3 separate regions of the Homo sapiens genome follow, and regions 1 and 2 are each linked to region 3. The links come from fine-mapping of genetic effects on plasma protein levels. A gene starts in region 3. Each other region holds a variant in brackets. All regions are shown on one strand. Distances are between the middles of the regions.

Evidence for each region. A credible set is the group of variants that fine-mapping cannot tell apart. PIP is the posterior inclusion probability: the model's chance that the variant is causal. Protein levels are from antibody-based Olink assays in UK Biobank. Linkage for the fine-mapping came from a reference panel and not from the study's own genotypes, which makes the PIPs less certain.
Region 1: its variant is the best candidate, but not a certain one, in a credible set for the plasma level of the IL2RA protein (UK Biobank, PIP 0.84).
Region 2: its variant is the best candidate, but not a certain one, in a credible set for the plasma level of the IL2RA protein (UK Biobank, PIP 0.58).

Annotation. Positions count from the first base shown.
Region 1 is chr10:6,106,502-6,113,499 of GRCh38, reverse strand. It overlaps RBM17 (RNA binding motif protein 17), which reads right to left. Exons shown (of 12, transcript NM_032905.5): 6 at 4,758-4,814; 7 at 3,373-3,514; 8 at 1,139-1,290. Among named protein-coding and RNA genes, the nearest start is that of RBM17, 21 kb to the right of the region's middle. RefSeq lists an enhancer at 4,995-5,690. The variant C/T (reference allele first, on the strand shown) is at 3,174.
Region 2 is chr10:6,014,457-6,022,456 of GRCh38, reverse strand. It overlaps IL2RA (interleukin 2 receptor subunit alpha), which reads left to right. Exons shown (of 8, transcript NM_000417.3): 4 at 764-979; 5 at 2,516-2,587; 6 at 2,958-3,029; 7 at 4,338-4,404. It overlaps LOC124902368 (a long non-coding RNA gene), which reads right to left and starts at 6,999. Exons shown (of 3, transcript XR_007062042.1): 1 at 6,926-6,999; 2 at 6,125-6,193; 3 at 963-1,121. It overlaps LOC124902573 (small nucleolar RNA SNORA14), which reads left to right and starts at 5,263; the gene lies at 5,263-5,403. The variant G/A (reference allele first, on the strand shown) is at 3,987.
Region 3 is chr10:6,059,119-6,067,410 of GRCh38, reverse strand. IL2RA (interleukin 2 receptor subunit alpha) reads left to right here and starts at 5,044. Exons shown (of 8, transcript NM_000417.3): 1 at 5,044-5,323. The coding sequence starts at 5,260. RefSeq lists a silencer at 1,459-1,659, a cis regulatory region at 4,661-5,291 and an enhancer at 5,284-5,333.

The DNA.
Region 1 (6,998 bases), 47 kb before region 3:
AAACATACCATTAGATGTGTTACAGAACTGAGCAGCATATCATTAGATGTGTTACAGAACTGAGTCCTACTTACAATAATTAATTTAATTTCAATAGCGATCCCCACCATTTATGTCCTAGGCATCTACACAATTGGTCTCTGAGCGAAAACACAGCCTTATCTGCAATAAAAGCCTCTGCTTTGCTTTGGCATGTTTTTACAATAGCATCTGGATGTTTTGAGCCTCCACCATTACTTGCAATTTTTGCTCATCTCACTTCCCAAAGGGCTGACAGGGCATGTGAGTGATAATTCCTATAGGTGAGTTGACTTGGAGCAAACGTTCAAGGTCACGGGCCCAGGGGAATATGCAGTTACTAATCCAGCCACCGGCTGCCTTACTTCAGATAACCTCACAAGTCGGGACAACTGTTGGTTTCTGGCACTCACCTGTCAGGCTCGTGATGTATCCTAAGCTGTGCATGAACGGGGCTGCCAGAAAAGTTTTCTTCTTTCTTTAGCAAAGGAAGTTCAGCTAGGCTGACTCAAACTTAATTCCCTGATTAAAATGCTAACATATGTTTGTCTCTTTCCTGAATTCCCTCAACACAGAACAGACTGTAAAAATTAAATGAAAATAAAACACCAACTAGGCATCATTTACCAAGAGACTGCAACATAACATCAGATCTCGCAAAGCAAACAATCTGTAAGAGAATCAGAAATCACATCTATACTGAAAGGGCAAAAGGGAAAAGTAGAGACGACCTCTGAGATGGAGATAGCAGGTATATTCACTGCCACACTATATGGCTCTGTCCTTCATGCTCTAAACACATAACCAAGATTTCTTCCTGAGGACTACTCATTTTCTGCCCAAGTCTCTCACCATCTTTTCCTCCACAAGCCTTCATCTCTCTACGTCTGTTCTGAAAAAATAAAGATGAGCCTCAGGATTCCTGGTTTCACAAAACGGAAGTGGCAGTGCATCATATGAACAGGACGGCCTGTGTTCTAGTGATGGCAGGGCCAGCCCTCTCCCTCTGGCCACACGCCTCATTGTCCCCCTGCTGACACATGAGGATCAAGACTGGCCATGTCTGATATGGATGGGGCCAGTCCTTTCCCTCTAGTCACACGCTTCCCTGGGGACACACCTTTCTCTGTGGCGTCGCCCACGATGATCTTGCCGCCACGCTTGCTGGTCTTCTCCACTGACAAGGCAGTGCTCAGGCCCTGCTCATGCTTCCCCAGACCCTGGCCCTCCCGGAAGCCGTACTTCTGCATGATCTTGTGCGCCACCGTGCCCCTGGCAGGAGAAGAAGGGAAAGGACTCTTAGCCTTGACATCGTCAACTGGAGATAGGTTGCATTTTTCCATCACAACAACCTCCTTCTGGAGAGAGTGCATGCTCCACAGGGGCTTCAACAAAGTCACTCATTAACTAGGAGTGGGCTATTAGATGGAAGCTGTGGGGATGTGCAGCATGAAAGAAATAGAAAAAGCTATGAATAAAATCCAGAACATCCTGTTGTCTTGGAGGGGAAATGTCAGTTTCTCTGGTGGAGTCTCCTCAGTGCCCTGCTAGGAAACACAAGACCTTTTGTGTGCTCCGGACCTGCACTGCCACATAGCTTATGACCACAGTTTATTAAAAAGTGGCTATCAAAAAGTAAGTATGAAGTTTCGTACAATGAAGATGATCCCATTTTCCTAAATAGCACAGGAGAGTTTCCAATGACAGACTATACAAATGAAAGAACCCTTAGAGATCACCTATTTAACAAATGAGAAATAAACGGAGGCCAAGATTAGCTGACTAGCTTAAGGGGTGGACTTAGAAGTAATGCAAGACGCCATATTAGAAATTATTTGTACAGGCTGGGTGCAGTTGATCACACTTATAATCCCAGCACTTTGGGAAGCCGAGGCGGGTGGATCACCTGAGGTCAGGAGTTCAAGACCAGCCTGGCCAACATGGTGAAACCTCATCTCTACTAAAAATGTAAAAATTAGCTGGGCATGATGGTGTGCACCTGTAGTCCCAGCTACTTGGCAGGCTGAGGCAGGAGAACTGCTTGAACCTGGGAGGCAGAGGTTGCAGTGAGGCGAGATCGCACCACTGCACTCCAGCCTGGGCGACAGAGCGAGACTCCATCTCAGAAAACAAATAAATTATTTGTACAGCTGTTAATGGTAGAGCTGAAACTGGACCCCACAACTCTCAGTCACTGCTTTCTGTAACAACCAAATGGCTCTCACACTGCGCTCTGAGGCGCAGCATGGGTCTGAAGGGCACCCCAACCCCATGACCACTGCTGCTTAGGGCTTAAGCCACAAAATCCCGCTTCAACTGGAACTGCACCTACATTACTTCTTGTATTTAATTCCCTTAACATTTTCATTTGAACAAGCTATTCTAGGGCTAAAAAGACCAGAAACTGCTGAATGGTACCATCTTGCATCTTTCCTAAGCACAAGTTAAAGATGTAATTCCTGGTTAAAAGCAAATTCGCTAAAAAGTCAGTTTTTATCATAAACAGGGAAAACAAAACAAAACAAAACAAAACCAGCTTCATGTCTGTCCAACCCTCCAGTACACAAAGCTTCCTGCAGCCACGGCCATGTCCTATGTCTGCACCATCCAACATCGTCACCACTTGCATGTGGTCACTGAGCACTTGAAAGGAGACTAGTGAGTTTCAACCCCACTCACTGTCTCACCGGCTGCATTTCTGCTACAGGCAGCAGCCAGCAGATGCAACACAGCACAGAACAAAGCCTTCATGTGATACTGCTTCATGGGACAGCCGTCTCACAGGATCAAAGTCAACAACACAGAATATCCTCTTAACCAAAATGTTTGCCAAGCCCAGCACAGTTTAAAAAAATCCCCAAGCCCCACCTGAGCGTCAGCCTTACAGTCAAATTTTATATGCTGGCAAACATGTCAACTTGTAGTTAGAATGACCCCGAGTTTTTTAGACCAAAGGTTTAGAACCATGACCTGAAAGCAAATGGCCCACTTTATCAGGAAAAAAAAGGTATCACCTGCCCTTTGGAGACAGTAAGTCAGCTCTGATTCATATGAGCTATTTTATTTGCAAACGTTATGAAGGCAAATGTAAACATTAATCAGGTTCTGTGCCTGTCTAGGAAAATAATGTTCAACATCAAAATGAGTCAAAACTT[C/T]TACTGGGAGGTTGCTGTTTTGAACAAGCCCCATCATTACACTGGAACACGCTCCACACGATTGAGGCAGGTACCGTGTGACCTGCACACACCAAGGGTCCTGAATGTCCTCAGTTTCAAACAAGCTGCATCTATTGAAAGGGCTATCAACGCTTCACACTGTCTCTCAAGTCCTTAGATAAGAACATTAAATCATTACCCCATGTTAGCGAGGAAGGAGTTGCTAGGTCCGGTTGGAGATCTCGGTCTGTCTTGTTCCTCGTACACTGGGGGAGGAATGGCTGCTTTGGAAGACTGTGATCGAGGTCTTGAGTCCTCTTCATAAGGAAAATCTCGGGGTACTATTGGAGAAAAATAAAGTAGGCTCACCAAAATACTATAGAAAACACTCTGAAACCTCACTTGTATCAATTATTTATCTTGAACAAATTTAACCTACTTTTTGGTTTACCACAAGGAGAGAAAAACACCAAATCAATTTTACAGCCTTTATACGACTTTTTTTAAAACCACAGAGGGAGGACGCTACTTTCCTGATTCTAACTTTCCTTTTGCTATTTCTATCTCCTCAAACGTCTTTTTTATATCTTACTGAAATGTTATTCACCCTTTAAAATCTTCTTGAATGAATATTCTTGCCGGAAAGATGTTCTGTATGTTCTAAGGAGATACAATCTGGCCATCTTTTGACTCCTGCAGTAACTTGGGTGCACCTGTCTAGACCCCGACCTCACTATCTCATCAGCTCATGGCCCACAAAGGTGTCCGAGGTTAGGGGCTACGCACTGGAGCGGTGGCTTCAACCCTAGTTAGATGAAAGTCAGTAGGACGCTTTAAGACCATCCAGATGCCTGAGCCCCACTCCCAGAGACTAGTTTCAATTGGGGTTTATTGTTTGTCTGTTGTTTTCACATAATAGGTATTTCATAATATCTTAGAAATTATCTTCTTTAAAAGATAAAGAATTCAACAAGTTTTAAAAAGTACTATAAATGAGAATATCTGCTTGGGATAGTTTAAGTATGGTCCAATCCAGAGAATGGGAAAATGACCTAGATGATATTCAGAAGTCCAGTCCCAACCCCCAAATTCTAGAGCAGATCACTGCGAGAAGGAACAGTGGGTGAGGGTGTTTTGGCAACGCAATGACACGCAAACCCACCTGCAGTGAAATGGAACGGGAAGAAAAAATCTAATCAAGGAAGGCATTGCCACCTTGTGGAGGATCATGAATATAACAGCCTCTAAACCTCTGAGTTAAAAAACTGTAACGATCTGCTGTTTTAACTCCAAATGAATCTAACAACAAATAAGAAATGTTAATGAAATCAAAGTGAATTGCATAAAAAAGAGATGGATCCCACTGCATGAAATCCAAGCCTCAGAGCCTGGCGTAGAAAGGTCTCTCTCTGCAGGAGGGCGCTGCATTCTGAGATCCAGGTGCGGCCTCAGGTGACAGAGCCAGGCAGGCTTGCAGGCCGTTTCCCTCTACGCTCAGGAAACCTGGGGGCCCAAGCTGAGATCCCCCATGGTTGGGTTAAAGACCTGTATCAGAATAAAAGAGGAAGAAACAGATCTACTTACACTCTTTGTCTTTCTCTACCAGAGAAGTGGGTGGGGCAATGGCAGCTCCGCCCATACCTGCAAAACCACAAATCCAAGCATTAAAGGAGGTTTCCGATGCCAGACTCCCAAACGACTATGACACACCATATATCTATCACCCACCCCCCTAAGAAAAAACTAAAAAAGGAGGACCTGCTACTTCAGATGACCTCCTGCTACATATGAACAAACCTCTGATGCTAGGATTTAAAATGTAGAAAAGTGGCAACACTCCCTCAGATATGCAAAATTGTTCCTTCATAAAAGGAACTCAAGAGCCCCACAATGTAGTCTGCAAATGAATTTTAAGGCAAAACAATACAACCAAGAGAACCAGCAGTTACTTAAAAAGAGAGTAATGTAACTATTTACCGAGAGCAATACCCATTAGGCCCTTTATACACATGGCCTCGTTCAGGCTTCACAGACCTCTGAAGTAGATATTACTGCATCCAGTTTACAAATAAGAGAATGATCAGAGGGGAGTGAATCAACAGAAAGGGAGTAAACCCAGCTCCCTGCGTTGCCATATCTCCCCCACCACACAGCACGCTCCTTTTCCAGTGTGCAAACCACTGGAACTAAACACATATTTGAAAGCGTGGGTCCTTCTGGCTCCTGAAGAAACTGCTGCGTGTTGTCACTATTCCTGGTGTATTTCCTGGACAACGAATGGTGAACACAAACAAACCAAAAGAGATAAGACAGATCTTTTTATCTGGTATCCGACAACTGGAAGGAGAACATCAGTGGAGACCACAAGGAATTTTGCATTAGGCATAAGTCCTAACATATATGGATTACGTATACATAATATTACATAATACATATGTATTATGGCTTAATCAACAATGAAATAAAAACAAAATGTAAAACTTTAAAAATTGATTACAAAGTCATGCTGCATCAGCACAAAATGTTTGACAAAAGAAATTATTCTGGCTGGACGCAGTGGTTCACTCCTGTAATCCCAGCACTTTGAGAGGCTGAGGCAGGCAAATCACTTGAGGCTAGGAGTTTGAGACCAGCCTGATCAACATGGTGAAACCCCATCTCTACTAAAAATGCAAAAATCAGCTGGGCATGGTGGCACACACCTGTAATCCCAGCTACTTGGGAGGCTGAGGCAGAAGAATCATTTGAAACTAGGAGATGGAGGTTGCAGTGAGCCGAGATGGCGCCACTGCACTCCAGCCTGGGCAACAGAGCAAGAGTGTCTCCAAAAAAAAAAAAAAAAAAAAAGAGGCCGGGTGCAGTGGCTCATACCTGTAATCCCAGGACTTTGGGAGGCTGAGGTGGGTGGATCACTTGACGTCAGGAGTTTGAGACCAGCCTGGCAAACATGGTGAAACCCTGTCTCTACTAAAAATGTAAAAATTAGATGGGCGTGGTAGCGCACACCTGTAATCCCAGCTACTCTGGAGGCCGAGGCAAGAGAATTGCTAGAACCCAGGAGGTTGCAGGTTGTGGTGAGCCGAGATTGCACCACTGCACTCCTGCCTGGGCAACAGAGTGATTCCATCTCAAAAATAAATAAATTCATTCTTCTAAAGAATTATTCTAGAAATTATTCTAAAGCCAGTGTCCATGCATTTTGATTAACAGGACTGGATGATATAAAATCCTCAAGGAGAAATATGAACCTGAGTAAAACCTTCTTCTATTTCCTTTGAAATACTTCCATGATCATTTTACTAACCTTGTCACTAGGACCTAGAGTGATTACTGATTCTGAAAAGCAGATTAGCTCTAATAAGTTCAGTTAAAAAAATTCAGGGTGATTACTGGAAATCTGCTACTAATCACATTAAAATAAGAACATCAATCTGTCAACAACTATACATATGATGGGCATGCCACTACCTCCCTATCATGAGCTACAAGGTCAAACAAAGTCTTCTCATTCAAAGCTATCTAGTTCCTGCTGGTGTTTAAGAAAAAAAAACAAATGTCCTTAGTATGGAAAGCATGCCTCCTTATTAAAAAGGGCAGTCAATTTATAAGCTGGAAAAATGAGACCTACAAATATTCAACCTATATACTGAATTCCAAAAGAAGTTAATAAAAACCAAACATTTGGGGATTAACTAAGATAGCGGATATGAAATGTGTCACAATGCCCAAAACAGACACACTCAATGTTAACTATGCTTCCCCCCTAAGAGAAACAACAGAGTGGATTCAGCATCGGCCAACTGGACTGTGCTGCAGGTAAAGACA
Region 2 (8,000 bases), 45 kb after region 3:
GGGGCTGTGGGTGGGGAATTCAGAGATTTAATCAGAACAAGACATGGTCTCAGGCCACAGGTCCGTCAGGCCTGGGATGTAGTTGGGTGAGTGGAAAGTTCTGGGGATGGGAAATTTTGAGACGTCTTGAAAGGGCGCATGTGTGTCAACCTTCAGGTGTGGCTTGATCAGAGATGGTGCTCCATTTCTCTGAGGTTCCCTCAGCCCGTCCCTCCTCCTGGCTTTGGTGTTGTCCCCAATCCTTCCGACATCATCCCAAGATGCCCAGCCGCTGCCCCCAAGAATGCACTTCCTCACTTGTCCAGCAGAAATCCAAGGTGGTCTTCATGCTCCATTGGCCCAAATAGGCTTGAGCCTACCCTTGTGTCTCAGCTGAGACTGCCCCGCCCACTCCTGTCCACTGTCAACACCTGCACTGTCTTCCAAGAGGCAGTTGTGGCGTTCCTGTCTCGGGGCCGCACCAACCAGAATGAATCGCTCATTCCTCTGTGTTCCCATTGCCAACGTCTGCTATCCTTCACATGCCTTTCTTACCCAATCCACTGTCCACCCCTTGCAGGAGTGACAGGGTCTTCGTGCCTTCCTACAGGGCCTAGCAAACTTCCCCACGCTCAGACGTTCTCAACATATATTGGTTGAATGAAAGGATGAGCAAGCAGTCAAGAGAGTAAGAACCAAGGTCCAGTCCCTAGCAAGAGGCAACCTGGACTCACTCGCGGTGCTGTCCCCAACTTGCCTTCAGAGCATTCCTTCCATCTTCCAGGTCACTGCAGGGAACCTCCACCATGGGAAAATGAAGCCACAGAGAGAATTTATCATTTCGTGGTGGGGCAGATGGTTTATTATCAGTGCGTCCAGGGATACAGGGCTCTACACAGAGGTCCTGCTGAGAGCGTCTGCAAAATGACCCACGGGAAGACAAGGTGGACCCAGCCCCAGCTCATATGCACAGGTGAAATGGAGACCAGTCAGTTTCCAGGTAGGGTGGCTCCCTTCTGGGGTCCACAATGTTGCTTTGCTCCATCAGGCTGACCAGAGTGGAATCCCTGACCACTCCTGCTGGACAAGAGTGGTCCTTGGACAAGACCCTTGATCTCCCTGGGCTTCCATTTTTTCTCATTCTGAGAAAAAAAAAAAAATTTAAATAGACCAGATCAGATGGACTCTAAGGGCTCCTTCAATGAAGGTCCCCCTGTGCCCTGAGTGGGGAGAAAGGTTGGAGACAGAAGAGAAGGAAAGCCCTCTCCTAAGCACCCTAGATGCTGCCTCGTAGTTGGTCCTAAGTCCACTACTTCTCTAAGCCACCAAGGCCTCCTCTGGCTCCAAGGGCAAGTCCAGTTTCCCACTCACACATTTTTCCTCTTACTGGTGATCGTGTAAATGCATGATCTGAACAGCCCTCCACGGTCAGCATGTTCCTTCCCCTTGTGCCATTCCCCAGCTGAGCTTGTAAAAATAAACATAAAATGTGCAGAGTCGGGACTTACTCAGTGCACATGCGCGCACACACACACACACACACACATACTCATGCAAATGCTCAGCCCACCGATGTCGAGGTCTCCTGCTGTCTTCCTTCTGAAATCTTATTAGTATCACGACAATCAAAAGTGACTTACATGCAGGCTGGGCACAGTGGCTCACACCTGTAATCCCAGCACTCTGGGAGGCCAAGGCGGGCAGATCACTTTAGGTCAGGAGTTCGAGACCAGCCTGGCCAACATGGTGAAACCCCGTCTCTACTAAAAATACAAAAATTATCTGGGCGTGGTGGTGGGTGCCTGTAATCCCAGCTACTTGGGAGGCTGAGGCAGGAGAATCACTTGAACCCAGGAGGTGGAGTTGCAGTGAGCTGAGATCACACCACTGCACTCCAGCCTGGGCAACAGCAAGACTCCGTCTCAAAAAAAAAAAGTGACTTACATTCAACCACAAGTATTCCTGGTTTTCTTGCTCACTGCACTTCTCATACTCCATGTCCTTCTCTTGGGTTCCCTAGGGAGGCTGTTTTGTTCCCTTAGCTGCTTCCCTGGGCCACCCTGACAGCCAGGGAATGCTTGCTGCTTCCTTGGAAGAGGGTGAGAGGCAGGGCAGAGCCAGGGTTGCTGACCCCTCAGGAGAAGTGGAGAGCCTGGCACAGAAGCAGCTGTCCCTTAGTGCATCTCTGCTCCATCCAGTGGTTCAATGGCATTCGTATTATTATGACCTGTTTCCAAGTCACAGATGGAAACCAGGACTGGGGAGGGAGGCTGGGGAGAAAGCATTGCTCAGAGTTTTGGGGACAGCTAGGGTCAGAGTTAGAATTCAGCCTCGTCTGCTCTGCTGAGACCACTTCACCGCTTCCCAGTGCCCCTGCTGTGGAACCATGAGGGGTGGCATCCCTGGCGAAGTGCCCACACCAGGATTCCTGCCTCCTCGGGCGTGTCTGGGGCCGGCTGCCTGGGGCAGGCGGGGTGGGAGTGAGGCCCTGACTCCTGTGTTTAGCTCCACCAGCATCACTTACTCTCTCCCCCAGGTGAAGAGAAGCCTCAGGCAAGCCCCGAAGGCCGTCCTGAGAGTGAGACTTCCTGCCTCGTCACAACAACAGGTGCGGGAGAAGACAAACGCTGGACCACAGAGGCCTAGTCCAAAAGGGCAGAGGTGACCAGGAGCCAGGCTCAGGGAGATAGGCGGAGGTGACCTGTAGGGGAGAAGCCCACAGCAGCCTCCTCTCCCTCTGAGCAGGGACAGGGCCTCAGCAACCTGCAGGCCCCAAAGCAAGTGTCAGAAAGAGGGAACCCAGGACCAGGACCAAGCACGGTCCCCAGGCAGAGATGGAACACCTTCCCTCACCACCACCACGTGTCTCCCACCAGCCTCTGAGCTTCTCATTCACAGAGACACCCTGACTTCCTTTAGCCTCGTGCTGTCCTAAAGTCACGGTAGCAGGAGTGTCTCTCTTTATCTCTTTTTCACAGATTTTCAAATACAGACAGAAATGGCTGCAACCATGGAGACGTCCATATTTACAACAGAGTACCAGGTAGCAGGTGAGTGGGGCACTGGCTTTGTGGACAAAATGTACACCAGGCTGAGATATGGACAGGTTGACTGGTTAGTAGGTTGGTTAGTTGGTTGGCTGGTAGGTTGGTTAGTTGGTTGACTGGTAGGTTGATAGGTAGGTTGGCTAGTTGATTGGTAAGTTGGTTCGTAGGTTGGGAGGTTAGTTGGTTAGTTGGTTGGTTGCTTGGTTGGCAGGTTGGTTTGTATGTTGGTAGGTTAGTTGATTGGTTGGTAGGTTGGTAGATTGGCAGGTTGGTGGGTTAGTTGGTTAGTTGGTTGGTAGGTTGGTTGGCAAGTTGATAGGTTGGTTGGTGGGTTGGTTGATAAGTTGATAGGTTGGTTGGTAAGTTGATAGGTTGGTTGGTGGGTTGGTTGATAAGTTGATAGGTTGGTTGGTAGGTTGGTTGTTAGGGTGGTAGATTGGCAGGTTGGTTGGTAGTTTTGTTGGTAGTTTGGTTGGTTAGCTGGTTGGTTGGTTAGTGAGTTGGTTGGTAGATAGATTGGTAGATTGGTTGGTTGGTTAGTTTGTTGGTAGGTTAGTAGGTTTGTTAGTTGGTTAGTTGATTGGTAGGTTGGTTGGTTGACTGAAAGGACCCCTTCCTTACACTGCAGAATGTGTGAGTGAAAGACTAATCCAGATACTGACGTAACTCAGAATTCGCATGAACCAGTTACAGGATGCTGTGAGCAAAGTCTCAAGTCAGCCCTATCAGCTCCTCTCAAGCTGATCTGGAAGGGCTGTACCCCGGGCCTCTGCCAGGGGTCAAGAGTGGGAGGAAGGAGCCACGTAGCCAGTCAGAGAGGACAGGCTTCCAGAAACACTGCCATTGTTTCCTGGTAGGAGGGAAAAACAGACTCTGAGTCTGCATCTGCCTAGAAAGTAAACAAATGTCAGCCTCCAAAACCTCAGCAGAGCAGCATCTGGAAAACCCGACCTCTTTCAG[G/A]AGATGTTAATGTGCTTCTCATCATCTTCATATTTCAACATTTCTTTTACCAGGCGCTCTCGGTGTCCTTAAACGAGGCCTGGCCTCTGAGCCTTTCTGAGGGGCTTTTGTGAGAGAAGGGTGCCTCCTGAGGGGAAGCTCCCTCCACCCTCACCCTGTCCTCCCTGCCCTGTTCCTCAAGACTCCTAGGAAATCCCATGGGGAGGGACCTACTTCCTGAGACAGGGAAGAGAGGCTGCAGCCTCCGCCTTGCTCTTTGGGGATGTCCTCAGCCTGCCCTGTGGCCCTGGCTCCTGCTGCCCCCATGCCAAGCCCAGGGCCCTTTGCTGAACTCCCTCTCTCTATTGACAGTGGCCGGCTGTGTTTTCCTGCTGATCAGCGTCCTCCTCCTGAGTGGGCTCACCTGGCAGCGGAGACAGTAAGTGTGGCATCACCAAGGCAGCCCTTGGTCAGATCAAAGTCCTGTACCCAGCCCCACCCTGCCTCCCCCCTACCCCCTCCATGCTCTCTCTAATCACCTGCAGTTCAGGGAGTGGCAAAGGGAGAGGCCAATCCATGCCTCGGAAAGAGTCAGTTAAAAAGAATTAAAGCACCGCCGGGTGCAGTGGCTCACGCTGGTAATCACAACACTTTGGGAGGCCAAGGCTGAGTGGATCACCTGAGGTCAGGAGTTTGAGACAAGCCTGGCCAACATGGCAAAACCCCATCTCTACTAAAAATACAAAAAATCAGTTGGGCATGGTGGCAGGTGCCTGTAATCCCAGCTACTTGGGCGGCTGAGGCAGGAAGATTGCTTGAACCTGGGAGGCGGAGGTTGCAGTGAACAGAAATCTCACCACTGCACTCCAGCCTGGGTGACAGAGCAAGACTCTGTCTCAAAAAAAAAAAAAAAAAAAAATTAAACGACCAGGGAAATGGGAAGGCAAAGGAGCCTCACATTCATTGAGCACCCACTATACACCAGGCTTGATGCTTGTTTTATAAACATTATTGAAATCTACCTTCTCAGAAACCTTTGGAATAGCTGTGGCCTAGAGAGATGCAACAGCTTGGAGAAGATGGCACAGCAGAGGCCAGCACTGCAACATGAATCTAGAGCCCATGATTTTCCCACCCAGCCCCTACCTATAGAGGACCCAGGGCAGCATCTATGCTGAGCTTTGCCTATCCTGTGCTCCCCACCCTCCCGTCCACAGAAGCTCACACCGGCATCCCCTTGACCAGGAATGTAAACCATGTGTGGTCTTTTTGCATTAACTCAGATTTTCAACCCTGCATGCATCTTAGAACATCCAGGAGACAGTCTTCTAAAATACCAGTGAGTGGCAAGATATGAGTAAATTCCACAGGAAAAGGAAGGCAGTCCAAAGGGCTGTGCTTCTCCTGTGGCTCAGTGTTATTCATAGCTGTGACATCTTTTAAGAGAGGTTTACAAGAGGGAAATCCTGTCACCAAAACCATTGTGACCCACTTTGAATTTGGGGGGAATCTTCATTTGCAACAATAGAAGAACAAATTTGTTGCAATAGGAAATATTTTTGTAGCTTATGTAGGTTGTTCAGCCAAAACAGCATAATAATTTAAAAAGTTAAAAGATAGCCCAGGAGTTGTGGCTCATGCCTGTAATCCCAGCACTTTGGGAGGCTGAGGCAGGTGGTTACCTGAGGTCAGGAGTTCAGGACCAGGCTGGACAACATGCTGAAACCCTGTTTCTACTAAAAAATACAAAAATAAGCCAGGCGTGGTGGTGGGTGCCTGTAATCCCAGCTACTTGCGAGGCTGAGACAGGAGAATCACTTGAACCCAGGAGGCGGAGGTTGCAGTGAGCCAAGATCGCGCCACTACACTCCAGCCTGGGCAACAAGAGTGAAACTCTGTCTCAAAAAAAAAAAAGAAAAAGGTAAAAGATATCAATGATTGGGCTCCAGTCAGAATGTCTGGGGTGAGCCCAAGACATCAGTACGTATTTTTAATTGAGATAAAATTCATCATTTAACCATCATAAAATGTACAGTTCAGTGGTGTCTTAGCCCATTTTGTGCTACTGTAACAGAATGCCTGAGACTGGGTAACTTATAAAGAACAGAGATTTATAAAGAACAGAGATTTATAACTTATAAAGAACAGAGATTTCTTACCATTCTGGAGGCTGGGAAGTCTGAGGTCGAGGGGCCCCCATGTATCAAGGGCGTTTGTGCTACGTCATCCTGTGGCAGAAGGCAGAAGGGCAAGAGAGTGAGAGACAGCAGGAGGGGCTGAACTCAGCTTTTATCACAAACCCACTCCTGCAATAACAACATTAATCCATTCATGAGGCAGAGCCCTCGCGACCTGATCACCTCTTCAAGATCTCACCTGTCAACATTGCTGGATTAGGGATTAAGTTTCCAACACCTGAGCTCTGGGGGATGTATTCAAACCACAGTAAGTGGTATTTAGTATGTTTGCAATGTTGTACAGCCATCCCCACTGATTCCAGAATACTTCCATCATTCCCAAGAGAAGCCCCACACTGCCAAGTTCCCCATTCTCCCCAGCCCCGGGAAACCACCACTCTATGTTCCGTCTCTATGGATTTGCCTATTCTGGACATTTCGTGTAAATGGAATCACGTGGCCTTTTATGTCTGGGATAGTCGTACGTTTTAAAGCCCCTCAGATGTATCTAATACATATGCATCCAGGTTTGACAACCCTACACCCGGCCATTGGTTTTCAAACTTGAACTAGCACCAGAATCATCTGTAGGAACATAAAGAAACGATAAATGTTTGAGATGATGGATATGCTAAATACCATGATCTGATCACTGTACCTTGTAGGTATCAAAGCATCCCTACATACCTCATAAATATATATAACTATTATGTGTCAACTTAAAAACATTTGTTGAAAGAATCATCTGGAGGCCTTGTTAAAGCACAGATTGCTGGGTCCCACCTGTGGAGTTTCTGACGCAGTCGTCTTGCTTAGGTCCAGGAATCTGTATTTCTATCAGGTTCCCAGGTGATACTGACGCTGCCGTTCCAGGGAGCAGACTCTGAGGATCACCGCACTAGGCTAACAGCATTAAGAATCAGGGAAGCTGGCCAGACTCACGCTTGTAATCCCAGCACTTTGGGAGGCCGAGGCAGGCGGATTACTTGAGGTCAGGAGTTTGAGACCAGCCTGGCCAACATGGAGAAACCCTGTCTCTTCTAAAAATACAAAAATTAGCTGGCTGTCATGGTGCGCACCTATAATCTTAGCTACTCGGGAGGCTGATGCAGGAGAATCGCTTGAACCCAGGAGGCAGAGGCTGCAGTGAGCTGAGATCGTACCACTGCACTCCACCCTGGGTGACACAGCAAGACTCTGTTTAAAAAAAAAAAGAAAGAAAGAAAAAAGAAAAGAAAGAAAAAGAAAAAGTAAACTCTAGAAACTCCCTCTGTCTCTCTCTTGATTATCCAGGGCCTCCCTGACCCCTGCCAGCATCCACTCTGGCCAACCCTGATACAAACTCCACAGTAAGACCCTGAGAAAATACAGATCCACTCCCCCAAAACCAAAGCCCTTAGCCCAGCCAGAGAGAAAAATAAAATATCTCTTCCCTTCTTATATGGGTCATCAGGTCCATAACATACTCCTAATTTTCCTCATGGGAATTAAAAAGTATAAATTACTGCAGTGCAAATGATAAGCCCCCTAGGGTTATTGTAGCAGGAATGATTCATATACCCGGCAGTCTACCAGTTTCTCTAAGGGGTTAGCTGACTCCTAAGGTGTCATTTTAGGCTTCCAGGAGGGGAAGGATGTGACGTGGCTGACATGTTGTACGTGTACTCAGTACTTGCATCCTCTCCTTCCTCAGGCTGAACACCTGACAAGCCTTAACACCTTGCAAGGATTTTTTTCATTTGTTAGTTTGAAGATCAAAAGCCTTCGGGCCCAGAGGACAAAGCTATTTGGAAGTAGGAATGGTTCAGTGTTTATGTTGTGAAACAAATAACTGTGTGAACCTATGTGAGTTCCCACA
Region 3 (8,292 bases):
CTTGGTTCTACAGGCATTTTTTTTTTTTGAGACAGACTTTTGCCCTTGTCCCCCAGGCTGGCGTGCAGCGGTGTGATCTTGGCTCACTGCAATCTCCACCTCCTAGGTTCAAGCAAGTCTCCTGCCTTAGCCTCCCAAGTAGCTGGAATTACAGGCATGTGCCACCAAGCCCGGCAAATTTTTGTATTTTTAGTAGAGACAGGGTTTCACCATGTTGGCCAGGCTGGTCTCAAACTCCTGACCTCAGGTGATCTGCCTGCCTCGGCCTCCCAAAGTGCTGGGATAACAGGCGTGAGCCATCGTGCTCGGCCGGTTCTATGGGCATTGTGGAAGTGACCGTTAACAAGCCCCAAGGGTAAGTAAAGGAAAATGAAAGGTGATTGATTCCTCACCACCTCTCCCCTTTTTTCCTCTACTCTTTGCCCCTGCTCCCCAATCTAGACTCTAATAAACAGAAATGATTTTTGTTGCAAGCTGAAAACTCGTTCTTGTGGTTGGGGCTAGGGGGGTGGCAAGTCAAGCTTTAGAGTTGTCTGGATAATAAATGCTGTCTTCAAGGACTGTCCAACATTGTAGGAACAAGAGAACAACCCAAGTGAACAACTAACTCCTGTTCACAAATGCTACTGCCTCTCTGCCATCCCCTAACCTCAGCCTCACACACTTGAATTTCGCCAATCCATTTGATGAGCTCAAATCAGTGAATTTTCTCCTCGCCAAAGCTCACAAATTCTGTTCCCCGCTTCTTGCCCCACATCCAGGCATTACCAACTGCATTTTCCCTTTGCCTGATATTCTGGCATCAAGCCTCCTTGCCATTCCAATTTATTTCACCTTCCTCCAGTCCTTATGATTTCCTTCCTGAAGAGTATTTCAGCATCTCTATGCCTCAATCTTCCCTGCACACCACACCAGCTCGGCCTCATCATCACATCACTTGGCTATGTCCCGCCTGGGTTAGACAGCTTCAGTGGCTGAAGTCCATAGATCTTATTCTGTTTTTCGAGGTCCACCTGACTCTGAATCCAGCTGATATTTCTGCCCTTAGCTTCTACCCCTCTCTACTTCTGGTTAACTATGGACCACACTCTGCTTCCTCAGGAACCACCTACCAAGGCCGTATCCATCCTTCAAGGACAATACGTGGGCCTTTCCTGATCACATCAGCTCAACAACTTTTCCCTCCTACATTTCAATTGCTCTTCTTACCATAATCATTAGTATTCACCCCACTGTACGTCTAGAAAGAAAGTGGTCTTAAACCTAAGGGAAGGCAGTCTAGGTCAGAAATTTGTTGTCCGCTGTTCTGAGCAGTTTCTTCTAGGAAGTACCAAACATTTCTGATAATAGAATTGAGCAATTTCCTGATGAAGTGAGACTCAGCTTGCACTGTTGACCGGCTGTCCCTGGATGAACCTAGTTACTTTTAACCAAATGTTCCTTTCTTGAACTTGTTCCTTTCTTGAACTTAATCTACCAATGTTATCTAGATAACTTTCCTCAAAAAAAAAAAAAAAAAAAAAAACCCTCTACTAGGAAAGAAATCTTTGAACCGGACTTATTGGAAATTACCTCCTTGCAGCAGGTTTGAAACAAAACTTTGAATTTGCCTCACAAAGAATTTGTCTGAAACTGCTTTAGTATATGCTAGTTATATTTGTATGCACATGTGGCTTCATACATAGTGGTTGGACACCCATATGTGTTATGCACTTTGTTAGGTGACGTAAGTTCACAGATAAACTGGACATAGGGCTATCCTCTAGAGGCCCACAGTTTGACACCTTAACCTGAGATCCTTGGACCTTTGAAGTTCAGAGTGCCCACAACCGCTGGGTGTGGTGGCTCACACTTGTAATCCCAGTACTCTGCAGGGCTGAGGTGGGAGGATCGCTTGAGTCCAGGAGTCTGAGACCAGCCTGGGCAACATGACAAAACCCCATCTCTACAAAAATTACAAAAAAAATTAGCCAGGCCTGGTGGTGCATGCCTGTGGTCCCAGTTACTTGAGAGGCTGAAGTGGGAGGATCACTTGAGTCAAGGAGGTAGAGGCTGCAGTGAGTTGAGATGGCAACACTGCACTCCAGAAACCCCATCTCAAACAAAACAGAGCAAAACAAAACAAACTGCCCATAATGCTCCTGAAACTTCCTACGGATTTATCCAGAGTATGTGCTGATGTGCATTTTTTCCAAGGAGGGAAACCAAAGGTTCTATCAAATTAAGAAAAGAGTTTTTACCATTGTGGAAGACAGTATGGCGATTCCTCAAGCATCTAAAATCAGAAATACCATTTGACCCAGCAATCCTATTACTGGGTATATACCCAAAGGAATAGAAATCATTCTACTATAAAGTCACATGCACCCGTATGTTTATTGCAGCACTATTTACAATAGCAAAATGGAACCAACTGAAATGCCCATCAATGAGACTAGATAAAGAAAATGTGATACATATACACCATGGAATACTATGCAGCCATGAAAAGGAATGAGATCATGTCCTTGGCAGGGACATGGATGAAGCTGGAAGCCATTATCCTCAGCAAACTAACACAGGAACAGAAAACCAAATGCCGCATGTTCTCACTCATAAGTGGGAGTTGAACAATGACAGCACATAGACATAGGGAGGGGAACATCACACGCCAGGGCCTGCTGCAGGGTGGGGGGTGGGGTGTGAGGGGAGGGAACTTAGAAGACAGGTGAGTAGGTGCAGCAGACCACCATGGCGCACTTATACCTATGTAACCAACCTGCACGTTCTACACATGTATCCTGGAACTTAAATTAAAAACAAAAAAGAGTTTTTAATCCAAAAAAGATTAACAGCAACTAGAAGAAAGAAAGAGATATAAACAGTGAATTGCAATGCAGCACGGCAGGTGTTATGATGGAGTAGAAAGGACTGGAAAAGGCCTCCTGGAGGAAGGGACACTCAAGTGTCTTTCCATTTCACCTGTAAACTCATTAAGGGCAAAAGCTTTGCTACAGCTTCAGTATGAGATCCTGGGCAATCCGTGACAAAATGGGTCTGCTTTTGCACCCCCAACTTCTTCTCACATCCCTGCATCGTGCCATGCAGCATCAACTGGAAACCTCAGCATCAGCAAACGACGACAGAGCGTTCATCCGTAAGGTGAACCAGAAAAGCCAGTTCAATGACTTGTTTAACCATGGTCCATCTCAGAACCAAGAGTTGGGCCTCTTATTTACCAGAAAAATTGTGGGGGCTTTGTGATATGGCTTTAAAAAAATCTTGTAATTGCCAGGCGTGGTGGCTCACACCTGTAATCCCAGCACTTTGGGAGGCCGAGGTGGGTGAATCGCCTAAGGTCAGGAGTTCGAGACCAGCCTGACCAACATGGTGAAACTCCGTCTCTACTAAAAATACAAAAACTAGCTGGATGTGGTGACGCGTGCCTGTAATCCTAGCTACTCAGGAGGCTGACGCAGGAGAATCACTTGAACCTGGGAGGCAGAGGTTGCAGTGAGCCAAGATTGTGCCATTGCGCTCCAAAAAAAAAAAAAAAAAGACATTAACATAAATTTAAATATTTTATAATGACAATCCACATTAACTACTTAAAGCATAAGCTATTTTCCAGGAGAGGCAGCAAGTGCATTCTACTCCCATGCCCAAGAAGAAAGGAGCGTGACTTTGGTGGGAGTACTAGGAGTTTCTACTGGAGCACTTGCCCGCAGAGTGAGAAACGTTCCTAGAGAGGAAGTTATACCTGCTGTGGAATTTAAGAGAATCTTGTCATATTTTGACAAGTTTTTTGAGATGGAAGTCTCACTCTGTCGCCCAGGCTGGAGTGCAGTGGCGCAATCTCAGCTCACTGCAGCCTGCACCTCCTCGGTTCCAGCTATTCTCTTGTCTCAGCCTCCTGAGTAACTGGGATTACAGGCGCCCGCCACTACGCCTGGCTAATTTTTGTATTTTTAGTAGAAATGGGGTTTTACCATGTTGGCCAGACTGGTCTCAAACTCCCGACCTCAGGTGATCTGCCTGCCTCAGCCTCCCAAAGTGCTGGAATTACAGGCGTGTGCCACTGCGCCTGGCTAATTTTTTTTTTTTTTTTTTTTTTTTTTTTTTTTTAGTAGAGACGGTGGTTTCACCATGTCATCCAGGCTGGTCTCAAACTCCTGACCTCAGGTGATCCACCCACCTTGGTCTACCAAAGTGCTCGGATTACAGGCATGAGCCACCAGGCCCAGTCAACGTGATGTGTTTTGGAACCCTGAATTCCTTGGCTTGCCCGGAGGGTTTTCTTTTTGTTAATATCTTTGCTTGCTTTCTAGTATTTAAAAAATTGTGTTTTGCTCTAACTATGCAATGGCTTTAAGTCTTAGACAAATTTCCAGGGAGCAAAACACACTCAACCATTTCATAATAATCAGAAGAGAGCTCTGATCAATAAATAAGCAAGACTGAATTTTACAAAATAATCCAAAGTTTAAAACCAAAGCCCACTTTTTGCATGATCCTTTAAGAGAAAGAAATCTGGAAGCAAAACACCTTATAAAATGACAATGCACTTTCAGGAGCCCAGGGCACTGTGGTGAAATGATGATGGCTAGTACAGGTTATAAGCCTTGGGGAATTATTTATGAATTCTCAGGATCCTTCAGTTCGCCGCATCCTTCTCCATTATTTGAATATTGGAGGCTGCCTGACCAGAATCTTGTCAGGACTTTGCTCCTTCATCCCAGGTGGTCCCGGCTGACTCCTGAGGACGTTACAGCCCTGAGGGGAGGACTCAGCTTATGAAGTGCTGGGTGAGACCACTGCCAAGAAGTGCTTGCTCACCCTACCTTCAACGGCAGGGGAATCTCCCTCTCCTTTTATGGGCGTAGCTGAAGAAAGGATTCATAAATGAAGTTCAATCCTTCTCATCAACCCCAGCCCACACCTCCAGCAATTGAACTTGAAAAAAAAAACCTGGTTTGAAAAATTACCGCAAACTATATTGTCATCAAAAAAAAAAAAAAAAAAAAACACTTCCTATATTTGAGATGAGAGAAGAGAGTGCTAGGCAGTTTCCTGGCTGAACACGCCAGCCCAATACTTAAAGAGAGCAACTCCTGACTCCGATAGAGACTGGATGGACCCACAAGGGTGACAGCCCAGGCGGACCGATCTTCCCATCCCACATCCTCCGGCGCGATGCCAAAAAGAGGCTGACGGCAACTGGGCCTTCTGCAGAGAAAGACCTCCGCTTCACTGCCCCGGCTGGTCCCAAGGGTCAGGAAGATGGATTCATACCTGCTGATGTGGGGACTGCTCACGTTCATCATGGTGCCTGGCTGCCAGGCAGGTAAGGGCCTGTGGGTGCCCCCGGAATTCCGGGAAGGCTGATGGGCATCCCTCTTCCCAGCCACAGAACCAGAGGGAGTCCCCAGGTAGATGGTTCCAAGAAGGGAGTTGAATCTTGGGTTCCACCTCTTGCCTGTGACCCACGGGGACCCCAGTTTATGCCTCACTGTTCCTTGGTCTGTCAAGAGAGCCTGAAATAGCATTAGGTTCTCCTGTCCTTCTCAGTCCTTGACAATTAATTCTGGGAAGAATAGTGTGGCATGATATTTGGGATATTTGGATGTTAACAGGGTCCCGATGAGCAGGTTTCTCAAGAAATTATCTTTTATTCTTCAATGAATTTCCTTTTATTCTCTGCACTCCCACCCCCCAACTAAGAAGCTATCAGGAAGCTCTTTAAGTTCAGGTTAATTTGCTGGAGACATGAGTACTCATATATCAAACACTGGGAGAATTTAAGATCTCAGAAAAGTTTAGCTTCAAGGATGTATACACTGCTTTTACGTCTTAGGAAATAACACCTAGGAATTTCCTTACAAGTGCAACTTTACAGAAATTTTTAAAAATATGCATACTCACTTTTAGAACATTACTACTTCTCATAATCCTATGTATATACATGATATGTATATGTATACGTGTTTATATATGCAAATTTTAAATTTCATTCCTTGTTTCAAATGGATTTTCTCGAAGATTTTTTTTTTTTGACACTGTCTCTGTCAGCCAGACTGGAGTGCAGTGGCGCGATATTGGCTTACTGCAACCTTCGCCTCCCAGGCTTAGCGATCCTCCCACCTCAGCCTCCTGAGTAGCTGGGACTACAGGCATACGCCACCACACCTGGTTAATTTATTTTTTTGTAGAGATGGGGTTTTTGCCATGTTGCCCAAGCTGGTCTTGAACTCCTGGGCTCAAGTGATCCACTCACCCTGGCCTCCCATACTGCTGGTACTACAGGCATGAACCACCGTGCCTGGCCAATATTTTTTTTTAAAGAAATAAAAAACCACCAACTTCTACCTCAAACCACTCTTCCTAATTGAGTGTGAATTTTCTAATAATGTCTTCCCTTTGCTTACTCAGGAAGACAGATAAGAAAGTTTATAGTGTTTTTTGAAAGTCTATAATGGCAACAAGTAGAATGCTAACTGGCTGTAGAAAGAATTTATTAAGAAATGAAACATAATGATGCATTTCAGGAGTCTGCTTGCTTGTTTAGGGGAAGTGCCCAGTCATGCTGGGCTGTGTACTGGCCCAGATGTAGGAGTGTCTTTAAAGAGGGCATTTTATTTACTTATTACATTTTTATTTATTTTTTTTTTACTTTTTGAGACAGAGTCTCACTCTGTTGCCCAGGCTGGAGTGCAGTGGCGTGATCTCAGTCCACTGCAACCTCCACCTCATGGGCTCAAGTAATTCTCGTGCCTCAGACTCCTGAGTAGCTAGGTTTACAGGTGCGTGCACCACCACGACCAGCTAATTTTTGTATTTTTAGTAGAGATGGGGTTTCACCATATTGGTCAGGCTGGTCTCAAACTCCTGACCTTGTGGTCCACCAGCCATGGCCTCCCAAAGTGCTGGGATTACAGGTGTGAGCCATCGCGCCTGACCTATGTGTTTTATTTTAATAGGTTTTGGAGGACAGGTGGTGTTTGGTTACATGAATAAGTTCTTTAGTGGTGATTTGTAAGATTTTGGTGCACCCATCACCTGAGCATGTATGCTGTACCCAATGCGTTGTAAGATTTTGGTGCACCCATCACCTGAGCATGTATGCTGTACCCAGTGCGTAGTCTCTTTTCCCTCACCCACCTCGCACCCTTTCCCCTGAGTCCTCAGAGTCCATCGTGCCGTTCTTATAAAGAGGGCATACTTTTAGGAAGGTTTTTCAATGTGATTTCTACATCCACAGGGTCTTTGCTAACTCAGTCTAAGCCAAGAACAGGAAAATCTTGACAATTAATCATGCTCTGCCTCTGGAAGACACATTTCAAGTAAACTCGTGTTATTTCTAGCTATTGGTGACTTATCCAAGGGTCTGAGTGGTCTTGGAGGGAGCAGGGGAACTAGAGTCCCATAAGGACTCCTTCACGCCATTCTCAACATCTATCCATACCCCATCTGCCCCTCAACACTATAGGAAATACAAAAATGAGGGAGATATAGTCCTGACACTTAAGCAACTTATAACCTGGTGAGGAGGAGAAAAACATAGATATAAATATAGTAATACCAGTCAGAGTGTGGTAAGATCTACGGAGCGTTGGGCTATCAGAGAAGGCTTCATGAGGATGACATGTAAAGGGAGCCCCAAGGGACCAGTAAATTTCCATCAATGAGATTCCAGGGAGAGAGACCCCAATGAGCCAAAACACAGGAGTGCCTTAGGGAGCAGCAGGTGGTCCAATGTGCTCCTGCCCTGGACAGGGAGGGTGGGGATATGGGGAATTCAAACTGGAAAGTTAGGATGAGGTAAAATGAATCATCTAAGGCATTAGGCATTTTTAGTCTGTATATTGCTGGGCCCTGGGATGTGGTCAGAAAGAGAATTCTCCTAGTGATAACTTCTTAACTTCACCTAGTAGGCAATAAAGAACTACAAGAAAATTTAAAACTACCATTTATAAAGTAACTTCTATGTGCCAGATATGTGTCCTATTGTAATCTTCATAGCCACTTTGCAGTATGGATATCATGAACCCCTAGATGAAGCAAGAACCCAAAACTCAGACTCGCACAGGCAGTGAGAGTGCCAGGGTTTGAACCTGGTCTCCCTGGATTGTTCTGTTTCTGTTCATTGCAAACAGGGTCAGCGCTTTATGGAGATGATACTGGCATAGAGTGGAGAGAGATCAGGTGCACAGAGACAGGTCATGAGGCTCTTAAAATAGTCCAATCACAAGGCAAATGAGGACCCAGTGGCCAAAGACAATGACAGGGGTCAAGTTTCTGGAATCAACAGGAATT